Regions from separate parts of the Homo sapiens genome. Here region 2 is linked to region 1. A link means that fine-mapping ties the variant in region 1 to the expression of a gene that starts in the linked region. Tissue or cell type: whole blood. Region 1 holds a variant in brackets; the other region holds the start of a gene. All regions are shown on one strand. Distances are from middle to middle.

Region 1 (10,644 bases):
TGAAAACAGGTGGAGGGTTATATAGATCTATTCTGAAAAGTTGGGAGCATGGTGCTTCTTTTTTCTTTCCTCTCCCACCCCTAACCCAACAGCAACCCCACACCAGCCTGCTTGGTGCACCCTCCAGGTGTCAGCCCGGCAAAAGGGGACTTAGGGGATTCAAACTTATCTCTAATTCTGGTTTAGCCACTTGGATTCTCTTGACAGATTAACCTGATCCCAGATCAGTGTACTCATTGAATACAATTGCTTGCCAAATTGAGTACACTGGTTGAGTACATTCCTTGCCAAGTTCTCTCACACTGGCTCATATAGGCCAAGGTGCGAGATACAATGGATGTCTGTAAATTTTGTAAAAATGTCCTTGTCTCACTCACGCCTCGCTCTAGCAGACAAAAGGTCTGGGTATGAGTAGGGAAAGATCGGAGAAATGATGAAGTTATGGCTACTGGAATGAGATATGCTGCTTTCATAGCCAGGAAGCCTGCGAGAAGACACCTTAGATGCCAGCAGGTGCAAACAGTGGAGAATGATCAATGTGCTCTTTGTCCCCTAGATCCAGCATTGAAACCTAGAAAAACCATCATCTCGTTCATCTGAGTTGAGCAGCAGCTGCAGCTGACAGTCTTACCCTTTCTGGATTTATCATGCTGCCTGCATGCTATGAAAACAGGGGAATTCATAAGGAGGTGGCCAGTCCTGGCTATTCAGTTGTGGCCTTTGCCAGCCATCAATGGCAGCTCCCAAATATGGAACCTCCCCTTACCCCATACATGCACAAACACACCATCCAGCACAACCTTGTTTGTCTGATTGGTACAAACACAGGCACTTTTCCTGTCACCCACGTGGCTTTGGTTCATGTATGGTGTCTGAGGATGCAAGCGTTAGGTGACACCATCCATGTGGCTAAACCAAACCAGTGTAATGATAATCCAAATCAGAATCAACAACAAATTCTGAATTCAAGTAACACGTAACCTGTTGGGTGTATGTTTGTATGTGGGCCATGTGATGTCTCTCCATTAGGGATGAGGGTTGCTTTTGGCCCATCTATCACTTCATATAATTACTGGCGATGACATTGAGGACCAGTAGATTAGTCTAGAACTCACTTATGCAGGTTGTAATGGATAATGACCTGGCCTTAGACTGTATCCTGGCCTACTAAGGCCTACTGATCCCCTTGAGACTTATTCACAGGTGACTGAGTCTGAGACGCCGGGTGGCATTGTTGAAGCCAATACTGTTGGTTGGCCTCATCTTGCTTGAGGTTCTATTGGTAGTAAATTCTGTATGAGACAAATTGAGCAAATTTGGTCCCAGTCTAGGGTGATCAGATTGATTGGAGTGGCAGATGGAGTGGTATACTCATGGGAATATTCCACTTTGGCCAAGAATGTGTAAGGTCAATTATTGGGAGAGGAAAGCTGTCAGAGGCCCTGAACGTCCCAGCACATTTTTACTGAGTATGCCAAGACTACAAGGCCCTGACCCCTCTTTCCTGGGCTGTTTCTCAGGGTCGTGCATTGCAGTAAGCCACCTTGAGGAATGAGGTTAATATCTCTCTCCAGGACAAAGAGCAGACTTGCTTACTGCTGTCTATGAAAGAGGGGGTTCCCCAGGCTCAATGTTCCTCACGTGGGGCACAAACCCAGTGCATGCACAGAATCCATAAGGCTCCTTCCCATTTTCCTTGTGGAACTTAGGGAACAAGGGGAGCTGATACAAACAGGGTGCTTTTGCTACTTGCTATGCTGTGTTAATATGCTTTGCTTTGTCTCTAATCTAGGAATCTCCTGTCTTCTGCCAGCATTCATGAAACAGTAACAAAGTAACTTATCTTGAAAGGAGGGCAAAATACAATCCAAGATATTTATATGTAGCAAAGTGAAAGAGAATAAACAGTAACTGCTAGAGAATGCCTTAGGCAAAAAGGCATCCTTGGATGTTGTCTTAGTTGGCTCAGGTTACCATCACAAAACGCCATAGACTGGGTGGCTTCAACAACAGAAATTTATTTTCTCAGAGTTCTGGAGGCTGGGAAGTCGCAGATCAAGGTACCAGTTGATTTGGGTCCTGGTGAGGGCTGTCTTCCTGGCTTGCACATGGTCACTTTCTCATTGTGTCCTCACATAGTGGAGATTGAGAGTTTTAGTGTCCCTTCCTCTTCACATAAGGGCACTAGACCTATCGGATAGGGATCCACCCTTATGACCTTTATCATTTCAGCCTTTATCACCTCCTCATAGCCTTTTTTTTTTTTTTTTTTTTTTTTTTTTTTTTTTTTGAGACAGTCTCGCTCTGTCACCAGGCTGGAGTGCAGTGGCGTGATCTCGGCTCACTGCAACCTCCGCCTCCCAGGTTCAAGTGATTCTCCTGCCTCAGCCTCCTAAGTAGCTGGGACTACAGGTGCCCGCCACCACGCCCGGCTAATTTTTTGTATTTATAGTAGAGACAGGGTTTCACTGTGTTAGCCAGGATGGTCTCAATCTCCTGGCCTCATGATCTGCCCGCCTCAGCCTCCCAAAGTGTTGGGATTATAGGTGTAAGCCACCACGCCCGGCCTCCTCATAGCCTTTATCTCCAAATACAGTTAATTAGGGGGTTAGGATTTCAACATATGCATTTAAGGGAGACAAACATTCATTCCATAACAGGTGTCATTCAGGTTTCAGTTAAGGCTGGTGGTGAGAGAAAGTTTTAAAAGAAATGTTGAAAATATGAGGAAGTTGGTTAATTTTGCAGAGGGGATTCTTTTTTTTTTTTTTTTTTGACCTCAACCTCCCGAGTAGCTGGGACTGCAGGCATGTATCACCAGGCCTGGCTAATTTGTTGGAGCAACAGAGTTTCACCATTTGGCCAGGCTGGTCTAAAACTCCTGAGCTCAAGCGATTTGCCTGCCTTGGCCTCCAGAAGTGCTTGCATCTGTAAGCCACTGCCTTACAGATGGGATTCTGAAGGGCATGGCAGATGTTGGAGGTGAAGTGGTAGAGGATAGGTCAGGGCCAAGGAGAAATAGAGCATTATGGGACTGAGTATGTGGCCAGTGGGATCCACAGTTTCAGAGTTGAGAGACAAAAGCAGGCATGAGAAGCATAAAAAAGTTTTAATAAGTTAGAACTGGCTGGGCGCGGTGGCTCACGCCTGTAATCCCAGCACTTTGGGAGGCCGAGGCGGGTGGATCACGAGGTCAGGAGATCGAGACCATCCTGGCTAACATGGTGAAACCCCGTCCCTCCTAAAAATACAAAAATTAGCCAGACATTGTGGCGGGCGCCTGTAGTCCCACTTACTCAGGAGGCTGAGAGAGGAGACTGCCGTGAACCTGGGAGGCGGAGCTTGCAGTGAGCTGAGTTCGCGCCACTGCACTCCAGCCTGGGCGACAGAGCGAGACTCCATCTCAACAACAACAACAACAAAAAAAGTTAAAACTATTGAAAGTTTGTGCTAGGAATACTACCTAGGAATGAAAACAAATGAATTACACTCTTATACACAACAACGTGGATAAATCTCACAGGTAATGATGAGTGAAAGCCAGATATTTAAAAACTACATAATGCATGATGTCATTTACATGAACTTCAAGAATGAGAAAAACTAGTTTATGGTGCAAGGAATCAGGAGGGGGTTACCTCTTGAGCGGCAAGTGTTCACTGGGAGTAGGCACCAGAGAGGATTTGGGGATGTTGAAAATGCCCTGTATCTTAATCTGAATGGTTGGTTATATGGGTGTATATGTGTGTAAAAATTTACCAACATGCGCATGTAATATCTGGGTACTTTGCTGTCAATTATGTCATAATTTTAAAAAGGCAAATAATTTTTTAATTAAAAACAAAGATGGATATTGGGCCAAAGTGATCATCCACATACATCTTGCCCACATAAAATGATCTTACCAGCAAAAAGAACAGCTGGGCTGGCTGCAATGGCTCATGCCTATAATCTCAGCACTTTGGGAGGCCAGCGCAGGGGGATTATTTGAGCCCACGAGCTTGAAACCAACTTGGGCAACTTGGCAAGACCCTGTCACTACAAAAAAAACTGTTTTGTTTTTTTTTCGAGATGGAGTTTTGCTCTTGTTGCCTAGGCTGGAGCAGAATTATGCGATCTTGGTTCACTGCAACCTCCGCCTCCCAGGTTCAAGTGATTCTCCTGCCTCGGCCTCCCAAGTAGCTGGGATTACAGGTGCCCACCACCACCCCAGGTAATTTTTTTGTATTTTTAAAGACAGGGTTTCACCATGTTGGCCAGGCTGGTCTTGAACTCCTCACCTCAGAGGATCCACCTGCTTCGGCTTCCCAAAGTGCTGGGATTACAGGCATGAGCCACCGCTCCTGGCCTATAAAAATTTTTTTAGAAAATCAGCCAGGTGTGATGGTACACCCCTGTAGTCCAAGCTACTCAGGAGGCTGAGGCAGGAGGATCGCTTGAGCCCAGAGGTCCAGGCTGCAGTGAGCCAAAATCGAGCCACTGCACTCCAGTCTGGGCAAACAGAGTGAGACTCTGCATTTGAAAAAAAAAAAAGGAAGAAAGAAGGGAGAAGAAGGGAGAAGGAGAAGGAGAAGAAGAAGAAAGAAGAAGAGAGGGGAAGAAGGGGACGAAGGGGAAGAAGCGGATGAAGGGGAAGAAGGGGAAGAAGGAGAAGAAGGGGAAGAAGAAGGGGAAGAAAAGAAGAAGAAGAAGAGGAAGAGGAAGAAGAAGAAGAGGAAGAAGAAGAGGAAGAAGAAGAGGAAGAAGAAGAGGAAGAAGAGGAAGAAGAAGAGGAAGAAGAGGAAGAAGAAGAAGAAGAAGAAGAAGAAGAAGAAGAAGAAGAAGAAGAAGAAGAAGAAGAAGAGGAAGAGGAAGAAGACAGAATTTCCCATATACAGCTTGGCACAGAATATGGGAGTCCGTCATCCAACATTTTGTTCAAATAAAGTAAGACCCTAGTCCTTGAGACCCACACAGGAGTGTGCTGGAATCGGATTGCTCAGGCTCTGAAGAGGCTATGGTGTGTCTCTCCTAACATGTTCAGTGATATCACATTAGTAGTTTGAAATCAGCCATGGTAGGAATGTGTAGTCACCACAAATTCAGCAAATGCTACAAAGCAAGTTTATTTTTTAAGAGGAGGCTGTTACCAGTATCACGCTGTTTTGGTTACTGTAGCCTTGTAGTATAGTTTGAAGTCAGGTAGCGTGATGCCTCCAGCTTTGTTCTTTTGGCTTAAGATTGACTTGGCAATGCAGGCTCTTTTTTGGTTCCATATGAACTTTAAAGTAGTTTTTTCCAATTCTGTGAAGAAAGTCATTGGTAGCTTGATGGGGATGGCATTGAATCTATAAATTACCTTGGGCAGTATGGCCATTTTCA[C/A]GATATTGATTCTTCCTATCCATGAGCATGGAATGTTCTTCCATTTGTTTGTATCCTCTTTTATTTCGTTGAGCAGTGGTTTGTAGTTCTCCTTGAAGAGGTCATTCACATCTCTTGTAAGTTGGATTCCTAGGTATTTTATTCTCTTTGAAGCAGTAGTGAATGGGAGTTCACTCATGATTTGGCTCTGTTTGTCTCTTATTGGTGCATAAGAATGCTTGTGATTTTTGCACATTGATTTTGTATCCTGAGACTTTGCTGAAGTTGCTTATCAGCTTAAGGAGATTTTGGGCTGAGACGATGGGGTTTTCTAGATATACAATCATGTCATCTGCAAACAGGGACAATTTGACTTCCTCTTTTCCTAATTGAATACCGTTTATTTCCTTCTCCTGCCTGATTGCCCTGGCCAGAACTTCCAATACTATGTTGAATAGGAGTGGTGAGAGAGGGCATCCCTGTCTTGTGCCAGTTTTCAGAGGGAATGCTTCCAGTTTTTGTCCATTCAGTATGATATTGGCTGTGGGTTTGTCATAAATAGCTCATTATTTTGAGATACGTCCCATCAATACCTAATTTATTGAGAGTTTTTAGCATGAAGAGTTGTTGAATTTTGTCAAAAGCCTTTTCTGCATCTATTCAGATAATCATGTGGTTTTGTCGTTGGTTCTGTTTATATGCTGGATTATGTTTATTGATTTGGTACCAAAACAGAGATATAGACCAATGGAACAGAACAGAGCCCTCAGAAATAATGCCACACATCTACAACTATCTGATCTTTGACAAACCTGACAAAAACAAGAAATGGGGAAAGGATTCCCTATTTAATAAATGGTGCTAGGAAAACTGGCTAGCCATAGGTAGAAAGCTGAAACTGGACCCCTTCCTTATACCTTATACAAAAATTAATTTAAGATGGATTAAAGACTTAAATGTTAGACCTAAAACCATAAAAACCCTAGAAGAAAACCTAGGCAATACCATTCAGGACATAGGCATGGGCAAGGACTTCATGTCTAAAACATCAAAAGCAATGGCAACAAAAGCCAAAATTGACAACTGGGATCTAATTAAACTAAAGAGCTTCTGCACAGCAAAAGAAACTACCATCAGAGTGAACAGGCAACCTACAGAATGGGAGAAGATTTTTGCAATCTACTCATCTGACAAAGGGCTAATATCCAGAATCTACAAAGAACTCCAACAAATTTACAAGAAAAAAACAAACAACCCCATCAAAAAGTGGGCAAAGGATATGAACAGACACTTCTCAAAAGAAGACATTTATGCAGCCAACAGACACATGAAAAAATGCCCATCATCACTGGTCATTAGAGAAATGCAAATCAAAACCACAATGAGATACTATCTCACACCAGTTAGAATGGCAATCATTAAAAAGTCAGGAAACAACAGATGCTGGAGAGGATGTGGAGAAATAGGAACACTTTTACACTGTTGGTGGGACTGTCAACTAGTTCGACCATTGTGGAAGTCAGTGTGGCAATTCCTCAGGGATCTAGAACTAGAAATACCATTTGACCCAGCAATTCTATTACTGGGTATATACCCAAAGGAATATAAATCATGCTGCTATAAAGACATATGCATGGGTATGTTTATTGCGGCACTATTCACAACAGCAAAGACTTGGAACCAACCCAAATGTCCAACAATGACAGACTGGATTAAGAAAATGTGGCATATATACACTATGGAATACTATGCAGCCATAAAAAAATGATGAGTTCATGTCCTTTGTAGGGACATGGATGAAGCTGGAAACCATCATTCTCAGCAAACTATCGCAAGGACAAAAAACCAAACACCACATGTTCTCACTCATAGGTGGAAATTGAACAATGAGAACACATGGACACAGGAAGGGGAACATCACACCCCGGGGCCTGTTGTGGGGTGGGGGGAGGGATAGCATTAGGAGATATACCTAATGTAAATGACAAGTTCATGGGTGCAGCACACCAACATGGCACATGTATACATATGTAACAAACCTGCACGTTGTGCACATGTACCCTAGAACTTAAAGTATAATAAAAAAAAAAAAAAGAGGAAGCTGTTAACCACTTACGGTTGCATCACTTGGCCACCAGCACCTCAGGCTTATCCATGAAGTAACTACAGCTGAGAATAAGTCAGTAACTTGCCTACTGAGTTCAGGTCTCCAGACCCCAAGTCCGGTGTTCTTTCCACCACATGGCACATTCCAAGGACCTCGCTCCCCCAGGCCAAGCAGCCATTGAAGGTTAAGGAAAGAGAGAGCTTAAGACCTCTCTCCCCAACACCAGGAATAGGCCTGGGTGACACAGCAGAGTAGGGATAGGTGACAAGGGATAGGTGTGGGGGGCTCTTTTTATTTTTATTTTTTAAGACAGAGTCTCGCTCTGTCACCCAGGCTATAGTGCAGTGGCGCAATATGGGCTCACTGCAACTTTCACTTCCCAGGTTCAAGCAATTCTCCTGCCTCAGCCTCCTGAGTAGCTGGAACTACAGGTGCGTGCCACCACACCCAGCTAATTTTTTGTATTTTTAGTAGAAACAGGGTTTCACCATGTTGGCCAGGCTGACCTCAGGTGATCCACCTGCCTTGGCCTCTCAAAGTGGTGGGATTACAGGCATGAGCTACCGCGCCCGGCTGGGAGCTCATCTCTTTGGGGCACCCTGTGGGACCCCACATAGGCAATCCATCATGAGTTTCTGACCTCTACCTCCCAGACAAGTATTCATCCACAAATATTTATCCTTCAAGGACTATTCACAGCACTATGGATACAGAAAAGAAGAAAAGAATCAAACATCTTCATCTGTAAGAGCTACAGGCCAGTAAATGATAGCACTTTTCTATTAAGAAACGCATCCCTCCCCACTGAACTTGTTTTAGTTTAGGTCTTCATTATCTCTTACCTGAACTGTTCCTACCCAACTCCAGGTCCCACCAGAAGATCTAGATTTTGGGAGACCTGAAGCTTATACAATTGGAGGAGTAACTCCTTAAGAAGAATACAAAATTATGAATACACAATTATATGTAACCATGTGAACCTGTCACGAGGAATATTCGAGGGTCCTTGGAAGGGGCCGGTGTAGATGAAAGCCTGAAGATTAAGCCTCATGGAGAATCAGCCTCTGCCAAGTCCTCTCCCCACTTCACCCGGGACAAGGGGAAAAATAGCTCCCTCCTGCCTACCCTATATTCCCCTCACCCCCTACCCCTACCGCACCCTGCTCTACCTCAAGGATAATAGTTTCCTTTCTTCTAGACCCCCACTCCCCCACCCTCCTCCTACCTCCCCAGCAATTTGGGTTTTTGTTTTTGTTTTTTGAGACAGTCTCATTCTGTTGCGCAGGCTGGAGTGCAGTGGCACGATTGGCTCACTGTAACAGCCTCTTCCTCCTGGGTTCAAGCACTTCTCATGCTTTTTTTTTTTTTAAATATTATGCTCTTGCTTTTTTGCTTTTAATGTAATAGTTTAAGTATAAATATTTGTCCCTAGTATCTATTTGGAAAATGAAATAAGCTGCTTAATGTCTCCAACAAAGACAGTTATATATCTTTCCCACTTCCACAGGAAAACCCAAGGTGCTGAACGCCCAGAATAGCAACCTTACACAGGTATAGTGTTCAAAAGTTTGTAAAATTGTTTTCCTCGTGTTTAATTTTATTTCACCTTCACAACTGTGTGCTATCATTCTCATTTGATGGGAAACTGAGGCTCAGTATAAGTTTACAAATCCAGTGAGTGGCAGAGATGGGATTCTGACTTAAGTTCAGCATTTTAGGAAACTCAAGGCAGGCGCGGTGGCTCATGCCTGTAATCCCAGCACTTTGGGAGGCCAGGGTGGGTGGATCGCCTGAGGTCAGAAGGTGGGGACCAGCCTGGCCAACATGGCGAAACCCCGTCTCTACTAAAAATACAAAAATTAGCCAGGCGTGGTGGCCCACTCCTATAATCCCAGCTACTCGGGAGGCTGAGGAAGGAGAATCACTTGAACCCGGGAGGTGGAGGTTGCAGTGACCCTAGCTCGTGCCACTGCACTCCAGCCTGCGCGACGGGAGCGAGACTCCATCTCAAAAAAAAAAAAAAAAAAGAGACTCAAACGTGATCTAGAATAAACGCACCTACTGCCAACCGGATGTTGGGTCAAGTGAGAATGAAGACAATGTAGCCATAGTACTGAAGTTCAATTTACGCCAGTGGCGAGACATTGATTTAAACCAAGTAACTTGAACTCAGGTTTGCTCCCCATGTACTTGGAATTTAACTGCGCTGAGCTTTTACTTATTTATTTCAAGTACTCTATAGTAGTTCTGAGCCCCTGCCTCCTGTGTTGCTGGGACTAGAGGCACATGCCACTGCACCCGGATAATTTTTGTTTTCTTTGTATTGTTTTTGTTTCATTTTGTTTGTTTTTTTCAGTAGAAGCGGGTTTTTGCCATGTTGGCTGGGCTGGTCTCGATCTCCTGGCCTCAAATGATCCACCCTCCTTGGCCTCCCAAAGTGCTGGGATTACAGGCGTGAGCCACCGCGCCTGGCCCTCCCCAACAATTTGAAAATGAATTTGATCTTGCCCCACCGGTAAATATATATATATATGTGTGTGTGTGTGTGTGTATATAATATTTCAAAATTGTTGCCATTGCCTATGAGTAGCTAAGGGGCAGCCGTCAGGGATAGTGTTGGGTGCTGCTGCAGTTTTAGGTTTGAGACTGCAGGGAACAGCCGTGCTCTGCAAAATAGCAGGGAGTGGGCATAGCTTGCTGCACTGGGAAAACGGTCCCCTTCCTCTTCCTCAATGGGCATTGAGACCGGGTGTCTTTGAAGTGGTTTGTGATTGGCAGGTGTGTGAACAACCAGGACCAATGATCCCAGAGCCTGGGGATAGGAGCTCGACTCTCCTGCCAAAGGGTCCACCACGATAGCTCCTATTGTTTTATTATTCAAGATTGAATAACTGGGCCTAGATGTGGGATGGAATGGATCCTAAGGCAAGACTAATACTTGTGGTGTGGGGTTTTCTTGAAGCAATTGAAGAGGCCTCAGGAATCAACAGCGAGGAAGGCCCAGAGCTGGCGCATACCTACCAGACCACCTTCTTGGATGGCCCTTGTCATTCTGGATTTCTTCATGGAACTATGAGAATTGCCATAATTAATGCGCGCTTTAGTTTTTGTATTCCTCCTTTCATTTTAATTACCATCGGGGATCTGACAGGAAGTGGATCCAAGTGCCGGCATCACACTCTGGGGCCTCCGGGGGG
Region 2 (9,088 bases), 30 kb before region 1:
ACCAGCCTGGCCAACATGGTGAAACCTCTCTCTACTAAAAATGCAAAAATTAGCCAGACGTGGTGGCTCACGCCTGTAATCCCAACACTTAGGGAGGCCAAGGCGGGCGGATCACAAGGTCAGGAGATTGAGACCATCCTGGCTAACACGGAGAAACCCCATCTCTACTAAAAATACAAAAAATTAGCCGGATGCGGTGGCGGTCGCCTGTAGTCTCAGCTACTCGGGAGGCTGAGGCAGGAGAATGGCGTGAACCTGGGAGGCGGAGCTTGCAGTGAGCCAAGATTGCGCCACTGCACTCCAGCCTGGGCGACAGGGCGAGACTCCGTCTCAAATAATAATAATAATAATAATAATAATAATAATAATAATAATAAAATAAAATAAAATAAAATAAAAATACAAAAATTAGCCAGGTGTGGTGCCAGACGCCTGTAATCCCAGCTACTCAGAAGGCTGAACCAGGAAGTGGAGCTTGCAGTGAGCCGAGATCACGCCACTGCACTCCAGCCTGGGCAACAGAGCGAGACTCCATCTCAAAAAAAAAAAGAAAAGAAAACGTGGTATGTATACACAATGGAGTACTATTCAGCCATAAAAAATAAGATCCTGGCCAGGCACAGTGGCTCACACCTGTAATCCCGATACTTTGAGAGACCGAGGCAGGTGGATCACCTGAGGTCAGGAGTTCGAGACCAGCCTGGCCAACATGGTAAAACCCCGTCTCTACCAATAATACAAAAATTAGCTGGGTGTGGTGGCACACACCTGTAATCCCAGCATTTGGGGAGGCAGAGGAGAGCAGGATAGCTCAAGCCCAGGAGTTTGAGATCAGCCTGGGCAACATGGCAAAACCCTATCTCTACAAAAAAATTAGTCAGGCATGGGGGTGTACACCAGTAGTCCCAGCTACTTGGGAGGCTGAGGCAGGATGATCACTTGAGCCCAGGAAATCAAGGTTGCAATGAGCAAAGATTGTGCCACTGCATTCCAACCTGGGCTACAGGAGACCCTGTCCCAAAAAAGAAAAAAATGAGGTTTCAGTAGCTTCTATGCAAGGTGATAACTGCAGAGAACTGAGACTCAACTGAAAATAGGTGATAAAACATTTTGTTGTGCTATTTATTAATTAAAGGACAAAAGAGCAAGATGAAAGACCACTAATATTTTTTGAGCTCCCACTACATGCCAGGTACACCATTGTCACACCTGGCCCACAGGAGATCTTCAATAAATGTTTGTTAAAGGGATGAATGAAACCCCAACCTTCATTCTGCAAAGGAAATGAAAGCTCAGGAAGATTCAGTGATTAAGATCACATTGTAAGTACTGGCAGAGCTGGGGCTTGAACCCACGTGAGCTGACCGATTCAAATTTACTGCTGCTTAACAACTCACCCTTACATTTAGTGGCTGAAAACCGCAATGTACTATTTGTCACAATCAGGGTAGACAAGATGCAGATGGTGGTTCTGCTGGTCTTGTTTGGGGCCTTACATGGCTGCACTGAGATGGTGACAGGGGCTGGGACACACAGGATGGCTTCACCCACACGTCTATCTTGGCCATTTGTGGAAACTAACTACCATAGGTGGTATTTCATGACCCTGTAAGCACCCACAAATTGCACCTGGTTGGATATTCTGCCTTAGAAAGATCATTCTGGCAGTAGAAAGTGCCTTGAAGGGGAAACCAAAGGTTTTGTAAAAAGTCTACTTTGGTGGTGAAGACCTGAGCCTAGACAGGAGCAGTGCACCCAGCAAACAGTCCAAGCGGAAGGCAAAGATGGTCTACTCCACCACAGGTTGCAGAGATGCCCCCTGGATAACTGGATAACAGTGTCAAGGATAACAGGAGTCCTGTGTTATCCCACTAGAGTCAGACTACAAGTATCAGGGTGAGATATTTTATTGAAGGGATGGAGATGAGAAAACCGAAGGAAACCTTTTAATGTTCATACCACATCCATATCTGATCACAAGCATTGGTTATCTCACCAGCAGAAGCACTTTTCTTCAGCCATCTCTGTAAGTCAGCAAACTACTTCATGACAGCTCCTTTGTAACCAGAGGACCCAAATTTTTCCAGAGTACGACTGGTTACCTTTTGGCTCATTGATTGACCCTCAGGTTTTTTATATTCTGATTTAACACACAAAAGTGTGTTCATATAGTTACATATATATGTATATATGAAAAATATTTGTGTACATATTTCTATATATGTATGTAGAGCTGAGACAAAAGTTTTACAATGAACAGCACCTTACTCTAAGCAACACACTCTTATTTCTATTCGCTTTAATCCTTTTTCTTTTTTTTTTTTTTTTTTTTTTTTTTGACAGAGCCTTGCTCTGTTGCCCAGGCTAGAGTGCAGCCTCTGCCTCCCGGGTTCAAGCGATTCTCCTTCCTCAGCCTCCCGAGTAGCTGGGATTACAGACATGCTCCACCACGTCCAGCTAATTTTTTTATTTTTTGGTAGAGACGGGGTTTCACCATGTTGGCCAGGCTGGTCTCGAACTCCTGATCTTAAGTGATCCGCCTGCCTCGGCCTCCTAAAGTGCTGGATTATAGCCCACCCAATCCTATTTTTTTAAATGCTGTCCATTAATGCATTCTGACTTCTTGCTTGAAAACCCCTGGTTTAGTGGATAAGCACCTGTAACTCCAGGAAGATTCAGGATTAAGGGCAGAAATAATGAAGTAAATTGAAGTATTAGCATTAGTATTTTCCATTACATTTTGGAATCGTCTATTTTGATGTATTCACGACGGTTAAAATAATTTAACATGCTAATGTATGGATTAACTTGGCAATTCCATTTTAAAATATTAAATGGAATAACGATTCTGACTCGTAAGTAGACATGTGTAACAGAATTCAACCACATCTGTAAACCATATTGAAATTATGAGAGTAAGATTTACCAACCACATTTAGGTTTGACATATTAGATTTGTGAGTGAACTATGTACTTGGATTTTGTCAAGTAACTCAATCGCTTAACAAAATAACAATTAAATGTATAAATGCAGTTTATAGCTATACATTATTTTTAAAAATCCCCTTCGAATGACTCTTTAAAACATACCAGGGGATACGCTACTTAAGTATAACTAGGTTTTGGATTTATAACGTTAATATTAATTATTAAAGCAAAACTCATTTCTAAAGAGTCGCCTGAGTGCCCAAAAGACGCCCTCAAGGACAGGGAAGCAGCTGCGATTCACTCAGCGATCACCAGCGCCCAGAATTCAGGGCCGCCCAAGCGGAGGAGCAACACGTGGCCCAGCAAAAGGAGCTGGGTCCCGTGCAGCACAGCAACAAGAAACTGGCCTAGGAAGACGCTGGAGCGTCTTTCTTTCGCACGTTACTGCCTGCTACAGTCATTTAAAAAAAAAAAACCAAAAACAAAAAAAAGAAATAAATTAATAGTACGAAGAAAACTGCGCGAGCTACATTCCCAGCAGGGTCTGCGCCAGAGCGCGCCAGGCACCGCTCCCGTTACGGGTGGGAGGAAAGGATGCACCGCCCACCCGGCGCCGGGGAGGCTCGTCCCCGAGTAGGGGACGGGAACGCCTGGGTCCCGGGGACGTGGGGCGCAGGGTCTGGGGCCCGAGGCCACGGACGAAGCGGGAAGCCGGCTAGGCAGCGGTCTCTGTCTGGGATGGACGCCGCGCCCCACGCGGACCTCCCGCCCCGACTTCACCCAGCTCTGCTGCCCGTAACTCATATGACAAGAACATCAGGAACCGGACTATTACCCCGAAAGGGCCTTCCCAAGTCGTTTCGCCGCCTGCAGTGCCCGACCGGGGGCCGCGCGTCCCCGGCAACCACGCCCGCCCGCGCAGCTGCAGAGGCCGGAAAAGGCCCGCTCGCCCGCGCTCGGCACCACCCAGCCCGCGCTCCGGGCGATACCACCCTGGGCGGCCCCTCCAAAGGCCGGAGATGGTGTCGTCCCCGGCCTCCGATTGGTCGGGGGGGCGGGGGCGTGGCCTCTGGAGCCTGGTTCCGCGCGCCGGAGCGCGCTAGCCGCATTGCGAGCCGAACCCGGGAGCTGGCGCCATGGTGAGGAGTGGTTGCGGGGCGCGGGCGACGCGACGGTGGGGGTTTCGGCCTGCGTTCGGGCCGCAGACAGGGCCTGGGCCTGGGCCTGGGCCTGCGCCTGCGCCTGCGCCTGCCCTGGGAACGGGTTCCGGCAGACGCTGAGGTTGCGTTGACGCTCGCGCCCCGGCTCCCGTTCCAGGTGCTGTTGCACGTGCTGTTTGAGCACGCGGTCGGCTACGCGCTGCTGGCGCTGAAGGAAGTGGAGGAGATCAGTCTGCTGCAGCCGCAGGTGGGTGAGATCCGTGGGCTCCTTTGGCGGCCCCGCAGACCCTCATCGCGCGGGTCCCAGCATGCACAGCGCGCTCCCACGTGGCCGGCCGAGCGGTTCGGGGCGGGGGGACGGGCCTGGAAAGCTCTAGATCCGGGGGTCTTTACCTTGACCCATGGGTAGAATCGCTCTAGCAATTAGAAATAAGCCTCCCGGACGCCGCCCCCGAACGATTAAAGCAGAAGCTGGGATGTGGGGCCCAGGTATCAGCATATTTTAAGAGCTTCCAAGGCTGAGAACCGCTGCTTGACTGCGCCGCAGAGGCAGGAGGGAGGGAAGGAAACCACTTAGCCTCTTTCTCCCCCCAGGTGGAGGAGTCTGTGCTCAACCTGGGCAAATTCCACAGCATCGTTCGTCTGGTGGCCTTTTGTCCCTTTGCCTCATCCCAGGTTGCCTTGGAAAATGCCAACGCCGTGTCTGAAGGTAAGTCGGCCACCGCCAAGTGTCACAGAGAGATGTGGTTCCTTTCGGTATCCTCTCGGGCAGCTTGTGATAGTATTTGCCGTCCTTGGCTGGCTCTGAGTCTGATAGGCGTGAGGCAGTATTTGAGCCATACAATGTGTAATTTGAAATAATTGTCTTCACAGAGCTCAAGGTCTGGGAACTGTGCTAGACCAAACTGTTTAAGCAGACGATGTGGAATGTGTGTTAACGTTTCCTTGTGGGCACTGTAGTGACAAACTATTTTTTATTTTTATTTTTTTTGAGATGGAGTCTGTCCCCCAGGCTGGAGTGCAGTGGCAAGATCTGGGCTCACTGCAACCTCTGCCTCCCTGGTTCAGGCGATTCTCCTGCCTCAGCCTCCCGAGTAACTGGGATTACAGGCCTGTGCCAGCCACCACACCCGGCTAATTTTGTATTTTTGGTAGAGACGGGGTTTCACCATGTTGGCCAGGCTAGTCTCCATCTCCTGACCTCGTGATCCGCCCGCCTCGACCTCCCAAGGTGCTGAGGTTGCAGGCGCGAGCGACGGTGCCCGGCCGACAAAGGGGGGTTTCTTAAAGGGGGTCGGCTTAACACCTACTTGTGCCTGAGGTTTTGCCTAAACACAATCAAGTGTCTGGTTCTCTGCTTTCTGTTCGATTGGAAAGGGCAGTTGGGTAAACACAGGCTGAGAAAAAAAGGTTTGGTTCCAGAAGGCAAATTCTACGAAATACTCGAGGGTGTGTTACAAGCTATTATTTATTGCCCACTTGTGCTATCAGACCTGAATGCAGTTGTTCCCATGGCTGGGCCAGGCTTTGCAGTGATGACTTGCGAATCAAATCTGTCAATCCCCTGAGTGCAATCACTGATGTCTCCATGTCTCTGAGCAATGCCTGATGGGGAGGGATCTAGGTATGCCATCCCAGCGTGCTCGGTGGGACCAGGGTAGTCAGCTGAGGGATGTTAGAGTTGATCGTCCTTCAGCCTGTTAGTGGGAACTGTGTTCTTTCCCCTGAGGGGTTGTTCATGAGGACCTCCGCCTGCTCTTGGAGACCCACCTGCCGTCCAAAAAGAAGAAAGTACTCTTGGGAGTTGGGGATCCCAAGATTGGTGCCGCAATACAGGAGGAGTTAGGGTACAACTGCCAGACTGGAGGAGTCATAGCTGAGATCCTGCGAGGTGAGACCATCATCTGTTATATTCCTGTTATCCTGGACATTTTGGGGGAGGAGGTTCTGGAAACTTGGTTGCTTGTTGTGATTTCTGGGAAGGCCTTCAGGCTGGGCTGGTGCCCGTGGGTGCGGGAGCTAGCTCAGAGCCCCTTGTTGCTCACCGTCTTGCCCTCTTCTTAGGAGTTCGTCTGCACTTCCACAATCTGGTGAAGGGTCTGACCGATCTGTCAGCTTGTAAAGCACAGCTGGGGCTGGGACACAGCTATTCCCGTGCCAAAGTTAAGTTTAATGTGAACCGGGTGGACAATATGATCATCCAGTCCATTAGCCTCCTGGACCAGCTGGATAAGGACATCAATACCTTCTCTATGCGTGTCAGGTAAAGTGCAGGGGCCACCCATAATACTGGAGCCTTTGGTCTGTAGTTCAGTTAATTTTGAGTCTTGATGAGGACTGACCATCCTGTGGGTAGAACCATGTGGGCTGGGGCTGGGTGTAGGCCTCCTGGTGCTTACCACAGGCTGTGTTCTTACACTGACTGTATAGAAAGAGGAGGTAGAGTAAACCTACCCCATATACACCTCAGCTCAGGCCCTGTGCCTGGTCTGTATTGTGAATGGGGGAACATAGAATTGAGGAAGATTTGGATCTTTGTCCCATTTCCTCCAGGCAGAGTAGGTGTGGAGAAGGCAAGGCTGTAGCTCTATGGTTTTTGATGAAGCAGCTGGGCCAGGGAGTGACTGTGGCTCTTTGCAGGGAGTGGTACGGGTATCACTTTCCGGAGCTGGTGAAGATCATCAACGACAATGCCACATACTGCCGTCTTGCCCAGTTTATTGGAAACCGAAGGGAACTGAATGAGGACAAGCTGGAGAAGCTGGAGGAGCTGACAATGGATGGGGCCAAGGCTAAGGCTATTCTGGATGCCTCACGGTCCTCCATGGGTCAGTGCAGAGCCTGGCAACCTGCATAAGGTATGGGGCTCTAAATAGCTGGCCTCTTGCATTCACACTTGGTTTTTCCTAGGCATGGACATATCTGCCATTGACTTGATAAACATCGAGAGCTTCTCCAGTCGTGTGGTGTCTTTATCTGAATACCGCCAGAGCCTACACACTTACCTGCGCTCCAAGATGAGCCAAGTAGCCCCCAGCCTGTCAGCCCTAATTGGGGAAGCGGTGCGTCACAGGGGACTCAAAAATGGGAGAATAAGGACTGTTGCCATGTGCACCTGCACTGCTGTATTTCGTGACCCACCATGTCTTCCCTAGTTGTGCTTGATGGGGAGGTGGGGAGCAGGGCTGTCGTGCAACTGGGCAGGTCAGCAGTTCATTTCTCTGACTGCTTCCTTGACTCTCTCTCCAGGTAGGTGCACGTCTCATCGCACATGCTGGCAGCCTCACCAACCTGGCCAAGTATCCAGCATCCACAGTGCAGATCCTTGGGGCTGAAAAGGCCCTGTTCAGGTACCAGTGAGGGCACCTGCCCACAATCAGGTGCCACTTCTGGTGCCCACTGCTTGTTGGGGGATCACGGTGATGGCTGACCAGGGCTCCCTGACCTATACAGGCCTCTGCTATGGGGGTGATGGCCAGTCCTGGTGTCTGAGTGATTCCCAGGGCCCAGCAAAGGGACCAAGTTTCCAGGTCAGCGACATTGGATGCCTTCCCTCTGCCTCTGGGAGCTATGGGTTGGCATGCATTGGGGTAGAGATCCAATCTGGCCTGAGGCTCACTCAGGACTTCGGGGTGAGAGGAGGGGAGGAGCTGAGCTGCCTTGGCTAATGGGGTTGAAATTTCTGATCTTAAACTCTCCACTGAATATTCTCTCAGAGCCCTGAAGACAAGGGGTAACACTCCAAAATATGGACTCATTTTCCACTCCACCTTCATTGGCCGAGCAGCTGCCAAGAACAAAGGCCGCATCTCCCGATACCTGGCAAACAAATGCAGTATTGCCTCACGAATCGATTGCTTCTCTGGTATGGGTGGGGGGGCGTTGGCAGGTGTGAGAAGGGGCTGGGTGGCTGGGTGGGGAGGCTTGCAACCATAGCTTCCACAATGATGGCAATATTTTTCGTCAACAGCAGTTCACCTAGTGAGTGTTGAGACTCTGGGTCTGAGTGAAGCTGAGGGTAGAGGGAACACAGGGTTGGGGTAGTTTCTCTCTTTGGGCTGACAGGCTTTGTCACCCACACACATCCAGAGGTGCCCACGAGTGTATTCGGGGAGAAGCTTCGAGAACAAGTTGAAGAGCGACTGTCCTTCTATGAGACTGGAGAGATACCACGAAAGAATCTGGATGTCATGAAGGAAGCAATGGTTCAGGTCAGTTGGGCTTTGCTGGGTGTGGAGTGGCATAGCTAGCTGTTGGAGGTGATGAACTGTCTGAGCCTGACCTTGTAGAATGGAGGCAAAAAAACTGATTTAATGAGCCTGATCCAATAAAGCCAGAAAGGAGTCCTCAGAGCACCAGAAGTCTTCAGGCCCTTTTAGCACTTTTCTTTGACCAGGCAGAGGAAGCGGCTGCTGAGATTACTAGGAAGCTGGAGAAACAGGAGAAGAAACGCTTAAAGAAGGAAAAGAAACGGCTGGCTGCACTTGCCCTCGCGTCTTCAGAAAACAGCAGTAGTACTCCAGAGGAGTGTGAGGTCAGTAGGCAGCACGGCCCTGGCAGAGATCCTAGGTTGTAGGATTTTCAACAGCAGAACAAAGGATATGCTGCATCAAGCTGTGGTCTTGAGTCCAGGCTTTTGGACTGAAACAAGGACCTGAAACATCTAAAACTACCTCTTGATTCTATAGGAAGGAGATAGGTGCTGAACTTGCTCAAGAGCCCAGAGAGCTGGTTGTAGCTCACACCCGTTCCCTGGGCATGTGTGTTCTGTCCTCGGCTGCCTCCCAGGAGTCCTCAACCTGGGGTAGTGTAAATTCCTGCTCTGCTTATTATCAGACGTGTGTCCGGAGGTGGTCGTGTTTCACAGTGGGGATGGGGGCAGGGAGGTCCCCAATGTGCTAAGCTACAATCATTCTCCCTGAGATTTTCATTTAGCACCCAGTTTCTTAAACAGTGTTTCAGGGCCCTGTCTGGAACTTGGCATGATGGTTCTGTTGCGA

What was found. PIP is the estimated chance that this variant, and not a neighbour inherited with it, causes the effect.
Region 2: it holds the start of NOP56, and the variant in region 1 is fine-mapped to the expression of NOP56 in whole blood (INTERVAL, PIP above 0.99).

The regions. Positions count from the first base shown.
Region 1 is chr20:2,677,525-2,688,168 of GRCh38, forward strand. All of the region lies in intron 2 of LOC105372507 (a long non-coding RNA gene), which reads right to left. Among named protein-coding and RNA genes, the nearest start is that of EBF4, 9.9 kb to the right of the region's middle. The variant C/A (reference allele first, on the strand shown) is at 5,362.
Region 2 is chr20:2,648,597-2,657,684 of GRCh38, forward strand. NOP56 (NOP56 ribonucleoprotein) reads left to right here and starts at 4,036. Exons shown (of 12, transcript NM_006392.4): 1 at 4,036-4,067; 2 at 4,246-4,335; 3 at 4,683-4,797; 4 at 5,818-5,979; 5 at 6,153-6,351; 6 at 6,729-6,916; 7 at 6,999-7,150; 8 at 7,338-7,438; 9 at 7,805-7,953; 10 at 8,178-8,299; 11 at 8,485-8,622. The coding sequence starts at 4,065. MIR1292 (microRNA 1292) reads left to right here and starts at 4,181; the gene lies at 4,181-4,246. SNORD110 (small nucleolar RNA, C/D box 110) reads left to right here and starts at 5,616; the gene lies at 5,616-5,690. It overlaps SNORA51 (small nucleolar RNA, H/ACA box 51), which reads left to right and starts at 6,471; the gene lies at 6,471-6,602. It also overlaps SNORD86, LOC105372505, SNORD56 and SNORD57. RefSeq lists a silencer at 3,520-4,159 and enhancers at 4,660-4,749, 6,864-7,381.